3 linked regions of the Homo sapiens genome follow. The protein of the gene in region 1 interacts with the protein of each later gene in a pairwise test. Each region holds a gene or a part of one and is shown on either strand. Other genes may lie near its edges. The genes, in order: SLC35H1, PEX16 and TVP23B.

The links.
Region 2: the proteins of SLC35H1 (region 1) and PEX16 interact in binary tests that used the Homo sapiens proteins (3 or more experiments, as listed by UniProt).
Region 3: the proteins of SLC35H1 (region 1) and TVP23B interact in binary tests that used the Homo sapiens proteins (3 or more experiments, as listed by UniProt).

What each region holds. Positions count from the first base shown.
Region 1 is NC_000020.11:46,362,407-46,366,006, forward strand, and holds the start of SLC35H1 (solute carrier family 35 member C2), read right to left. Parts: upstream 2,020-3,600; 5' UTR 1,965-2,019; intron 817-1,964; exon of another isoform or gene 680-816; intron 1-679.
Region 2 is NC_000011.10:45,911,193-45,915,012, forward strand, and holds part of PEX16 (peroxisomal biogenesis factor 16), read right to left. Parts: intron 3,493-3,820; coding exon 3,412-3,492; intron 3,277-3,411; coding exon 3,124-3,276; intron 3,012-3,123; coding exon 2,939-3,011; intron 2,747-2,938; coding exon 2,627-2,746; intron 1-2,626. UniProt on the Homo sapiens protein: Required for peroxisome membrane biogenesis. May play a role in early stages of peroxisome assembly. Can recruit other peroxisomal proteins, such as PEX3 and PMP34, to de novo peroxisomes derived from the endoplasmic reticulum (ER).
Region 3 is NC_000017.11:18,778,920-18,782,739, reverse strand, and holds the start of TVP23B (Golgi apparatus membrane protein TVP23 homolog B), read right to left. Parts: upstream 1,558-3,820; 5' UTR 1,447-1,557; coding exon 1,435-1,446; intron 1,427-1,434; exon of another isoform or gene 191-1,426; intron 1-190. Other genes in the region: FBXW10 (F-box/WD repeat-containing protein 10), read right to left, coding at 3,442-3,820.

The sequences.
Region 1 (3,600 bases):
GCTTCCCTCCATCTTCCTAACTGTAACTTGGGCAGCATGGTTTAGTGCTTAAGAGTGTGGGCTTTGGAGTTAGACACTGAGAATCAAATCCTGGTGTCCCTACTCACTACTGTGTGACCCTAAGTTACTTGACCTCTGGACTCAGTTTCTCCAACTGTAAAGTGGCATCAGGTACAGCATTAAATGCTGGCTCATGGTAGAGGCTTACTCCCCTCCTGGTCCCCTTAACAGTGAAACTTCCCCAGAGGACCCCGCACTGCCAGTCCAACTCCTTCACCCCCTGCTCTCACTTCAGCCCATCTCCACTGCTCCAATGAGTCACCACACCCTCCTCCCTGCTGCCCCTTCGAAGGCTTAGTCTCTATTCTTTTTGTTGTTGTTGTTGTTTTGAGATGGAGTTTCAAGGCTGGAGTGCAATGGCGTGATCTCGGCTCACCGCAAACTCCGCCTCACGGGTTCAAGTGATTCTCCCGCCTCAGGCTCCCGAGGAGCTGGGAATACAGGCATGTGCCACCATGCCCGGCTAATTTTGTATTTTTAGTGGAGACAGGGTTTCTCCATGTTGGTCAGGCTGGTCTCGAACTCCCGGCCTCAGGTGATCTGCCCGCCTTGGCCTCCCAAAGTTCTGGGATTACAGGCGTGAGCCACCGTGCCGGGCCGGCTTAGTCTCTATTCTTACCTTACACAATGGATCACTTCCTCCTCCTAGAAAAAACCTTCTCTTGGGTGCCACGATACCACATTCTCCTGGTTTTTCTTCTGCTTTTCTGGACTCCTTATTGGTCTTTTTTGCTGGCACCTTCTTGTCAACTCAATCTATAAAAATTGGGTGCCTAAAGCTTGGAACCTGGCTTCTCTTCTCTCTTAAATCTTACCCTACATAATCTCATCCTACCCAATCCACTTGCCAATGATTTCTAAATTCTTTACATCAGCCCTGACCTTTTCTGTATCAGACTCATATATCTAACTGCCTATTTGGTAGCTGCACTCCAAATATCTAAAACTTAAGATGCCCTAAGAAGATTTCGTAATTATTTCTCACGCTCCCAATCTATCCCAAAGTCATTTAGTAAATGCCAGCATAATACACTTGGTTACTTAAGCCAAAACCAAAAATCTATGATGAAGTCATCTTTGACCACTTATTTCTGTCATTTCTCAAATCCTGCCCTGTCAGTTCCACTTTCAATACACTTCTTGACCCCTCTACTTCTCTTCCTCTCCATTCCCACTACCACAGTCTAAGCCACAATTATCTTTCACCTGCTGACTGCCACTGGTCTAACTGGTCTCCCTGTTTCCTCTTTCGCCCCTAAGGCCTGGAATCTATAAAGCAGCCAGAGAGATGGCACACGAAACAGATCATGCCCTAAGGCTAAGCCCAGCTCCTCAGCCTGGTCCACAAGGAAGGCCTCTGTAACCTCATTCTTCTGCCACTGGTCCCAGCACCCGCCACAGCGGCCCCCTGCCACGTGTCAAACACATCAAACCTGTGTTTTTCTTTACTTGCTGCTCTTCCTGCCTTCAGCTCCCTTCCGCAGACCTCCGCTTGGCTGAATACTTTCTCCAATGCCCCACCCCTCCCAATCCTCGTGGCACTCCCACCTCTGACGTTTCCTTGTTTGCTCACGTGTTTACTGCCCGCCCCAATCCCACCGCGGGAAGCAGCCCCTCAGAGGGCAGGGCCGTGTCCGATTCCGGCCCGGGTCCCGCACCCAGGACGTCGCAGGTGCTCAGGAAATACCAGATGAGCCGGCGTCCGGCAGGTGCCTTGCAGGAGGGCGCTTGGAGACCCCTGCCCCCTCCACAGACGGCGAAACTGAGGCCCGGGGAGGGGCAGGGGCGTGGCGTGCCCCATGTCAACCCGCGCAGATCCCGGGTGGGGAGCCCGCTTCCCTTCTCCAGCCCCGGCCCCCCAGCCTCTGGGAGTGCGCCGGGAGGCCGGCCGCACACCCACTCACCTCGGCCCTGGGAGCTCCAGGCCGGAATCTCCCCACCGGAAGTGCGAGGCCGGATGCCGCCGCCGAACCGCGGCACGGGCGGTAACTTCCGCCGGAAGCTACCCAGGGGCTGGGCGGAGCCGGGGCGAAAAGGCGGGGCGGGGCAGCACGGGGGCGGGGCGTCTGTTGTGGTCGGGTTCTGAGGTGGTCTGGTCTTTCTGAGGTACAGCGTAGTTTTGTCCTCCGCGAAGTCCCTCAGGCTCAGAGCACAGCCGTGTAATTGTCTGCGTCTCTCCCGCGCTCAATCAGGGGCTTGCTTTGGAACCCCGGTGCCTGCTAGTGTTCTGCATACAGTGAGCATCCAAAAAATGGTAACTTGTTTACTTTTACTGAACAAATTGTTTTTCTTATGTCCAGTCTAATGCTGGGCAACCATGGAATGAACCACGAAGATAAGTATCTCATGGGCTTTTTCTTCTGGGAGCTCAGGCCAGCTGGGGCCATTACAACTTAAAACTTGGGCGATCCAGAAGTAATACGAAACATTTGTGAAATATTTTCTGTATGAAACTTTCTAAGAATTATCTCAACTTCAATAGGTTGAGTAGGGAGAGAGCATCCCAGATAGAGGAAATGGGAGAATCCTAAAGGAGGGTGAGAAAGCTCCAGCCGTGCCTGGGGCTCACAGGTTGTTTGTAACTGTGGTGGTTAAAGTAGCCAAGAGGCAGGTTGCAGTGGCCCCAAAATGCCAGCCTAGGGAGTTCAGATTTTCTTCATCTTGCGGGATGGATTAAAAGGGCAGCATTTGCAGTCAAGAACATTAGGCCAGGGCAAGCTAGGGTTGCACATTCAGACCCAGTTTTGTGCCTTTCGCCCTCCTCTAGCCTCCTCCTGGGCTCTCTGGCAGTAAGACCAGCTGCAAACATGGATCCTTACAAGTGACTCAGCTGGGATCCCTGGCCCCTCTGAACAGAAGGCTCAAGGCCAGAGTGTAAGCAGTGTTTTATGCAAACTGCGGCTGTCACCGCCGCCAGCTGGCATCATGCAGGCATTAGTTCATTCAGTGCTTACCAAGCACCTACAATGGTACCCATCACTGCCCAAGGTCTTGGCTTTATTCAGTCCTCAGGCTTGTATTGCATGCACTTTCTATGCCTTTTGAAAGAGCCTGTCCTCACACCCTTCTCTCTCAGAGGCAAGAGATCTATTTTCATCACCACCCTCATTTAAGTCTCCCAGCTACCAAGGCCAAGGTTTGGAGCAACAGCCTAAAACACCAGCTGGAAGGCTGGGCACTATGCACAGGCAACACACAGGGTAAAGAGCGTGTCTTCTTTGTAAGGCACAAGTACTCGAGCTGTTCCCTGGCTGTGTCCCTGGCAGGGAGAAGAGGGAGGATGTGTTCATGGGGGTGTACAGTATGCCTTACCTTGCTGTACCCAGCAGGGTTGAGCAGAAAACGCTTCGTCCCAGTGCAGCAATCTGTGAACACTCTTAACCAGCAGGTGTGTGTCTGTGTGTGTGTATGTGTGGGAGGAGCGAATGATGAGGAGGAAGGGACTCTTGGAAGGTGACTAAGGGCTCCAGCTGGAGCTCTCCAGAGTCTCCCAGATACATGGAGATCAAGTCTTGTCAAGGTGAAATCTTCACCATTGGG
Region 2 (3,820 bases), on another chromosome or scaffold:
ACAACACCTCCTCCCATTCCTCTTTCCCCTTCCACCGACATCCAACACTGAAGGCCTCTAGAGGGTCGCATGTGGAGCAGCGCCCTGGCAGTATGGTGGAGGGTCCAGGGAGGACAACCCCACCCTGCCCTCGGGAAGCCCCCCAGTCTGGCAGAAGTGCTGGGCTGCATGGAAACCTCACAAGCCACCAATGAGAGTAGTCAGGACCTTGGTAGGGGACACAGTACTGAAGAGGGCACATTTTGGTTCAGGGGAAGGGGCAAGGCCCAAGGCCCTGATTTTTAAGACAGGAGGGTTTTCCACAGGGGAACTCGGGTGAGATGAGGATGCTGATGACAATACATAGCGCTACGTGCTTACTACACCCCACGCACTGCTGTACGCGTTAGTCACTGAACCCCTACAAAGTGGGTACTGTCATCATCCCCATCTTACAGGTGAGGAAATGAGGCACAGGCGCATCAAATAACTTGCCCAAGGCTACACATCTGGAAGGCGGCCTGACTCCTTATATGTCTGTCTGAGCAGCAAGAAAAGAGGAAGCCTGGGGGCCGGGTGTGGTGGCTCATGCCTATAATCCCAGCGCTTTGGGAGGCCAAGGCGGGCAGATCAATTGTGGTCAGGAGTTCGAGACGAGCCTGACCAACATGGAGAAACCCCATCTCTACTAAAAAATACAAAATTAGCCGGGCGTGGTGGCGCGCACCTGTAATCCCAGCTACTTGGGAAGCTGAGGCAGGAGAATTGCTTGAACCCGGGAGGCAGAGGTTGCGGTGAGCCGAGATCACGCCATTGCACTCCAGCCTGGGCAACGTGAGTGAAACTCCGTCCCAAAAAACAAAAGAAAAGAAAAGAAGAAGGCTGGCTGGGTGCAGTGGCTCCACCTATAATCCCAGCACTTTAGGAGGCCAAGGCGGGCCTTTGTTTCCCTAAAGGACAGGGAGCAGGGTCCAGAGAGGTGCCAGGGTGTGGTCCAGAAGGAGCAGCCTTACTCTTTTTTCTGTTTTAAAAAAAAGATGGGTCAGGCCAGGCGCGGTGGCTCACGCCTGTAATCCCAGAACTTTGGGAGGCCGAGGCAGGCGGATCACGAGGTCAGGAGATCGAGACCATCCTGGTTAACACGGTGAAACCCCATCTCTACTAAAAAATCAAAAAAAATTAGCCAGGCATGGTAATGGGCGCCTATAGTCCCAGCTACTCAGGAGTTGAGACAGGAGAATGGCATGAACCCGGGAGGCAGAGCTTGCAGTGAGCCAAGATTGCACCACTACACTCCAGCCTAGGCAGGCAACAGAGCCAGACTCCATCTCAAAAACAAACAAACAAAAAAAGACAGTGTCTCGCTCTGTCACCCAGACTGGAGTGCAGTCGCGCGATCTCGACTCACTGCAACCTCTGCCTCCTGGGTTCAAGCGATTCTCCTGCCTCAGCCTCCTGAATAGCTGGGACTACAGGCGTGTGCCATCACACCTGGCTAATTTTTGTATTTTTAGTAAAGACAGGGTTTCACCATGTTAGCCAGGATGGTCTCTACCTCCCGACCTTGTGATCCGCCCGCCTCGGCCTCCCAAAGTGTTGGGATTACAGGTGTGAGGCATCGTGCCTGGCTAAACTATGCCAGTTTTGTTTTTTTTTTTCTGTTTTGTTTTTTTGAGACAGGGACTTACTCTGTCACCCAGGCTAGAGTGGGATGGAGTGATCATAACTCACTGCAGCCTCAGCCTCCTGGCCTGATCCTCATGCCTCAGCTTCCTGAGTAGCTAGGACTTACAGGCGCACACCACCATGTCTGGCTAATTATTATTATTTTTTTTTTTTTTTTGTAGAATTGGGTTGCCCAGGCTGGTCTCGAACTCCTGGCCTCAAGCCAACCTCCTGCCTTGGCCTCCTAAAGTGCTAGGATTATAGGTGTGAGCCACTGCTGCCCAGCCTATGCCAGTTTTTAAGCTATTATTAGGTCCTAGACAAAGGGGGTCCCGGGAGCCTTGTCTGCCTCACAGTCCCAGCCACTGCACAGGGTTTCCCCCTGTCAGACTGTGGTCTAACCTCAAGCAGTCATAGTGGCAGGCCTGTGGAAGAACTAGTCCCAAGCTGCCCCCTGCTCAACCCAGCAGGCCTCTCTCAGGCTGGGAGCTCTGGACCCTCGCAGGTGACTGAGTGGGGGCTGGGCCAGGCAGGGAAGGCCAGGGGAGATCCTGGGTTTGGGATCTAGCTCTACCACTGGCTAGCTGGGTGTCTTTAAGTTGCCCAACCTCCTTGAACCTCCAGGTCCTCCTCTGAGAAGTGAGGATAAGCCAAACTATTTGGCAGGAAGAAGTGGAAATGAGCTAGAGGCCATGGGCGCCCGCCCTGTCGCCATCCCTGTGGGCCACCTGGCAATGCCCTCAGCCCTGCCCTCAGTGCCTCTCCTGCCAACCAATGTTTAAGTTCCTGCTCAAGTGGCCTGATGGCCCAGAGAGCTCTGCGGGCGGGACTGGGCTGGCATCTGGTGACTGCCACCCGGACAACACACAGTGCTTGGTGAACCCTGGATGAGGCGTGGGGAAGGGAAGGCGCCAGCAGGGACCGGAGCACCAGTGCCCGCTTGCCAGCCCTCTCCCTGGCTCAGGGTGTCCTGGGTGCTTACTCGGAGAAGCGGTCATAGAAAGGAGAGCGCAGCAGGTAGTAGAGCAGCAGGATGGTCCGGCGCCGCAGCTCCCGCCGCTCCCTCCGGGTCAGGCCCTTTCTGTCACTCAGGAGGCTCAGGCTGGGAGGCAGGGAGGACATGGTCAGGGCCAGGGGCATGATCTAGGCCCACGGAAGGGGAGGAGCCATGGGCTGGGTGTCCAGAGGGGCAGCAACAGGAGGAGCAGGGGCCGCTGCCACCCCGCCTATGTGAGGCCAGGATTATAGCAGAAAGCCCAGTGGAGAGTGAAGCCCCAGGCAGGCCCAGGCTCACCTGGTCACGTCCACAACACCAGCCAAGAGCCAGGGTTTCCACGACCTCTGACCCCACAGGCCCAGGCTGAGCACTGACGGCCAAGGCGTCAAGGATGTCTCCAGCACAGGGGCCTTGCTCAGCACACTCCCCACTCAATCCCCAGCCCACAGTGCCAGCCCTATCCTGCCCCGCGCTAAGGATACAGTGCAGCAGCGGCCGGGCAATGTACAAAAACTCTGCGATGGTCTCCTGCAGCCCCAGGGGGGTGGGGGTCGCACTCAGCTCCTCGTGATGCTGCTGCTGCCGTCCCTCCCGCTGCTGGGGAGCTCCCCAGTGCCTGGAGTGCAGGGACGGCGCTAGAACACAAGGGCGGCAGATGAGCGAGCCAGGCCCAGGCTGGGGCAGGGGAAGGTGGCTGCTGACCAAAGCCAGTCCCTCAAGCCCAGGCAGACAGCACCTAGGTGCCCAGGCCAGCCACATCCTCCACTTACTGTTCTGGAGGGTTCGCACCACCCGGTTTGACCGCTTCCCCACGTAGGACTGCTCATGGTTGCCAGGGCTGTGGTCACCATCTAGCAGGGATAGACAGAAGGCCATACAGTCAGAGGGACATGCTTCCAGCGGAGCCTGCAAAGAACGTGTGCAGTGAATGCTCAGGAGCTAAGGGGAGAACAGATGAGCTTGTACTATGGCAACAGCTGAGTCAAGGGAACTACAAGCAGGGTGGCGGCTCAGCACAAGACCCGTCCACAGAGGAAAGCACTCTGCAGCCCTCCCTAGCCTGGGGAAAGCTCAGCATAGCTGTGGCCAGAGCCAGCCTCCCGGAACCCATGGACAGGCAAGGCAGGGAAGGCCCAGCCTGACCACATCTATGGAGACCACAGCACCAGAGGGGCCGTC
Region 3 (3,820 bases), on another chromosome or scaffold:
CCATGGCAACATCAGGAAGTTACTCTCTATGATCTAAAAGGGGAGGAATGAATAATCCACCCCTTGTTAACCATACCACTAAGAAATACCCATAAAAATGGGCCACCAGCAGCCCTCCAGGTTGCTCTATGGAGTAGCCACTCCTTTACTTTCTTAATAAACTTGCTTTCACTTTGCACTGTGGACTCACCCTGAATTCCTTCTTGCCTGATCCAAGACTTTTTTTGTTTTGTTTGAGACGGAGTCTCCCTCTGTAGCCAGGCTGGATGGAGTGCAGTGGCCCGCGGCTCACTGCAACCTCAGCCTCCCCAGTTCAAGCGATTCTCCTGCCTCAGCCTCCCGAGTAGCTGGGACTACAGGCGTGCACCATCACGCCCAACTAATTTTTGTATTTTTAGTAGAGACAGGGTTTCACCAAGTTGGCCAGGATGGTCTCGATCTCTTGACCTCATGATCCACCCACCTCGTCCTCCCAAAGTGCTGGGATTACAGGCCTGAGTCACCACGCCCGGCCAAGGACCCTCTTTTCGGGTCTGGATCGGGACACCTTTCCTGTAATACAGCTGAATTTAACCATTATTAGATTTTCTCCACTCAAGGCATCTCCTCATAAGCAGTCTTTCCTGACCATAAATCTTAGTTGTCCTATCCTCAGACACTTGTTATTTCATCACCCTGCCTTTGCAATTATCTGAAAATATCTTTGGTTATACAATTTATCGTGTCTCCCCACCCAACCCCCATCTCCTAGAACCCACTTCCCTAACCCAAAAATACGGGGCAAGAAACCTGTCTGTACTGGTCACAACCCTATCCCTGGGCCTACAACCGTGTCTGAGTCATAGTAATCCCTCAACAAATTTTGTGTGAACCGAAAGAAAAAAACACTTAAGACAATCTAAGTGACCATAAACAGTAGTTTTTTCTAAAAATATTATTAATCTTACGAGTCTCTGGTTGCCAACATGTGGACTACAATTAACTCTAAGAGCACAAAGGAGAGAATCACCAACAACATTAGTTTGGAAACAGCAATTTGAAAGCGAGGCTCTGGCGGTGTCGCCGATTCCTACAAAATAGCATCGCACCCCTGGGTGTCAGGAAGCTAAGAGGCCCGCAGGCCGCTCCTCCTCAACTCCACCCCGGCAATAAGGGTTGAGGAAAGAGAGACCCCCACTCGCGCTGGTTAACAATGGGCGTCCCCACAGCCGCAAGAAGTACTTGCTCTGCGCCGCACGGGTCACGCCGCCCCCAGCGGCCTCAGAACCCCCAGCAGCCCTCCTCAGACAACTACCCACAGCCCTCCACTCCCGGCCGCCCCGCTCCTCCTCGAGTTCGAGTAGCGGGCGCGGGGGACGCGGGCTCCAGTCCCACGGAACCTGCAGAGCCAGTCCCAGGAGCCGCCACCCTCCCAGCGAGCCCTCAGCCCCTCACCTGCTGCAACATGGCGGCCCTACGCCAGCCCTACTTCCGGGAGCCACGTCAGCGCAGCAGCGTACGGGTCCGGGTCGGAACTGAGGCGACCCGTCACCAAGGGCCAGCAGGGACCACTGTAAGAGCCTCAGTCCGGCCTCACTTCCGCTTTGAGGGAGCAAATCCAGGGGCGGGGCGAGCGGGGGCGGGGCGAGCGGCCCGGACACGGCGGAGGCGGAGCCTGGAGCAGGAGCGAAAGGGAAAGGTATTGGGGCCACAGTGGGCTCTAAGTGGAAAGCTTCATGGTCTGTTTTACGGAAGTATTTGCTGTCCACCCAATGCAAATTCTAAAGTCGTTCCCCCAGTGTCGCTGCCCCGAATGCAGGGGGGCGGGGTTTTATTGTATAATATAATTTTCTTTAAATATTTTACAAAGACTTACTCCTGTACAGTATTACTTTTGTACTTTAAATTGTAGAAGCAACTTTTTAAAATATGTTCTTGCAGAGAAGTAAAACGTTAAGAAAAACAAGGCAGGAGGACTCTAGAGTAACTAATGGACGGTATTATTATGGGAGGTATAAACTTAGACGCCAGGAGTTGAGACCTTGCGCCCTGGAGCTTAGGCGCCTGGGAACTCTATTGCCAATCATATCACCAACCTTTATGTACTTCTTTCATCAGTTGTAAAGTGGGGGTGATAATGGTTTCCTTACAGTGTAAGTATCTAGTAAATGGGAGACGTTATACTTACTACAGTTTTAAGTCCAGCCGCTCATGCTGTGATCTTGCCTGAACAAAGGATGTGAAATTAAGGGGCGTTAAGTCATCTTTGAAGCGGTGATGATGACAATATCCTATCTGTCTGGCCGAGTCAGACTGCTGTTGGCATAGTGGTATTTGCACGTGTCCTTAATTGAAGGGATTCTATTAAAATCACAAATTTTACGTGGCTGATTGCCAGTGCCATTTAAAACCTGATATTCTAATAATGAAAGGGGGAAAACACACACACGCGTTTCTAAAGGCAAGACATTTCGGCAGCACAATTGCATTCGTGCCCTTGGAGATGAAAAGCTAACAAATTTGGGGCCTGTACGTCCAGCCTGCCCATGGCAGGTTTTCAGTGGTCCACTCAGTGCTGTGGAGTTTTGTGTTGTTTTTCGTAGTTTTTGGTTTTTTAAGACATTGTGTTTGAATTCATTATCGTCTTTTAATTTTTAATAGCTAATTTTTAAAGCTAATTTTGTATTTTTAGTAGAAACGAGGTTTCACCACGATGGTCAGGCTGGTATCAAACTCCTGATCTCAGGTGAGCCACCCGCCTCAGTCTCCCAAAGTGCTGGGACTACAGGCGTGAGCCACCGCACCTGGTCAAGGCTTGAACTTTCTAATGGGCCATAGCTCTTGTAGTGGGCTGCACTCTTCTAAATTACCTGGTCCCTGCACCATAGTCCAAAGGTTTAAGCAGAAACCTCAATGCACTTGATGTTACTGGCCCTCTTTGTACAGAGGATAAATATGCTAATTCTCTTCCTTAGGAGTTAGCCCTGAGAAGGAAAAGCTCAATGTTGTCAAATGCAACAGGTCCACCCCACTGAGGGCTTCCCCTTTTAAATTCTTAATGGGTTTTATCAGGCTTCTGTGCAAAAATACCAGAAAACACCAATGCATGACCCTGATATAATCCCATAACTTCATTTGCCAGAAGAACTAATAGCACTAAATTGGTAGTGATGAATGGTATCTAATTTCCAGTGATCATCTCCCCATCCCCCATCAACGAAACTGGGCTTTCCTAATGCTCACTAAATTGTTTTCAGTGGGACTACAGATGCTAATCTCGCCCAACCTCCTTCTGTTTTCTTATTTTGATGATATCAAATATTTGGCTCAGAGGAAGATAACTGGGAGTTCCCACATTAATTACCAGGAAGAAACAGTCAAAAAAAAAAAAAAAAAGGCCAAATAGCAACATCCGCTTGGCTTTCTGTTTATTGTAAAACATTGTAATTTCCCAAGGCTGGTTTAGATAAATACATTTTGTCCAAGTTCAGGGGCCGCTGTTTTCCCTTGCTTCGTGAAATTATCAATAGGCAGGCCTTTGATCTTCCTGATCCATGCAGCTTTGCTGACTTTTCCTGGATCAACCACTCCAGTGGACTCCCTGGCCTGATATTCCTTCATCTTGGCTTCCTGGTGCTCCTTCTCCTCCTTCACGGTCAACAGCACGAACTCAGTGTTCACTCTAAAAGGATCAAGGGCTGTATAGATGCGAGGCCGTTCTTTCTTAAGAGACAGGGTGGCTGTGCCCACTTGTGGAGCTAGCATGCGGTTTGGTTTAATGACCTGCATACTGGTCAGGGGACCCGTACTGCACACAGCCCTTTCAATTGAACTGGTCACT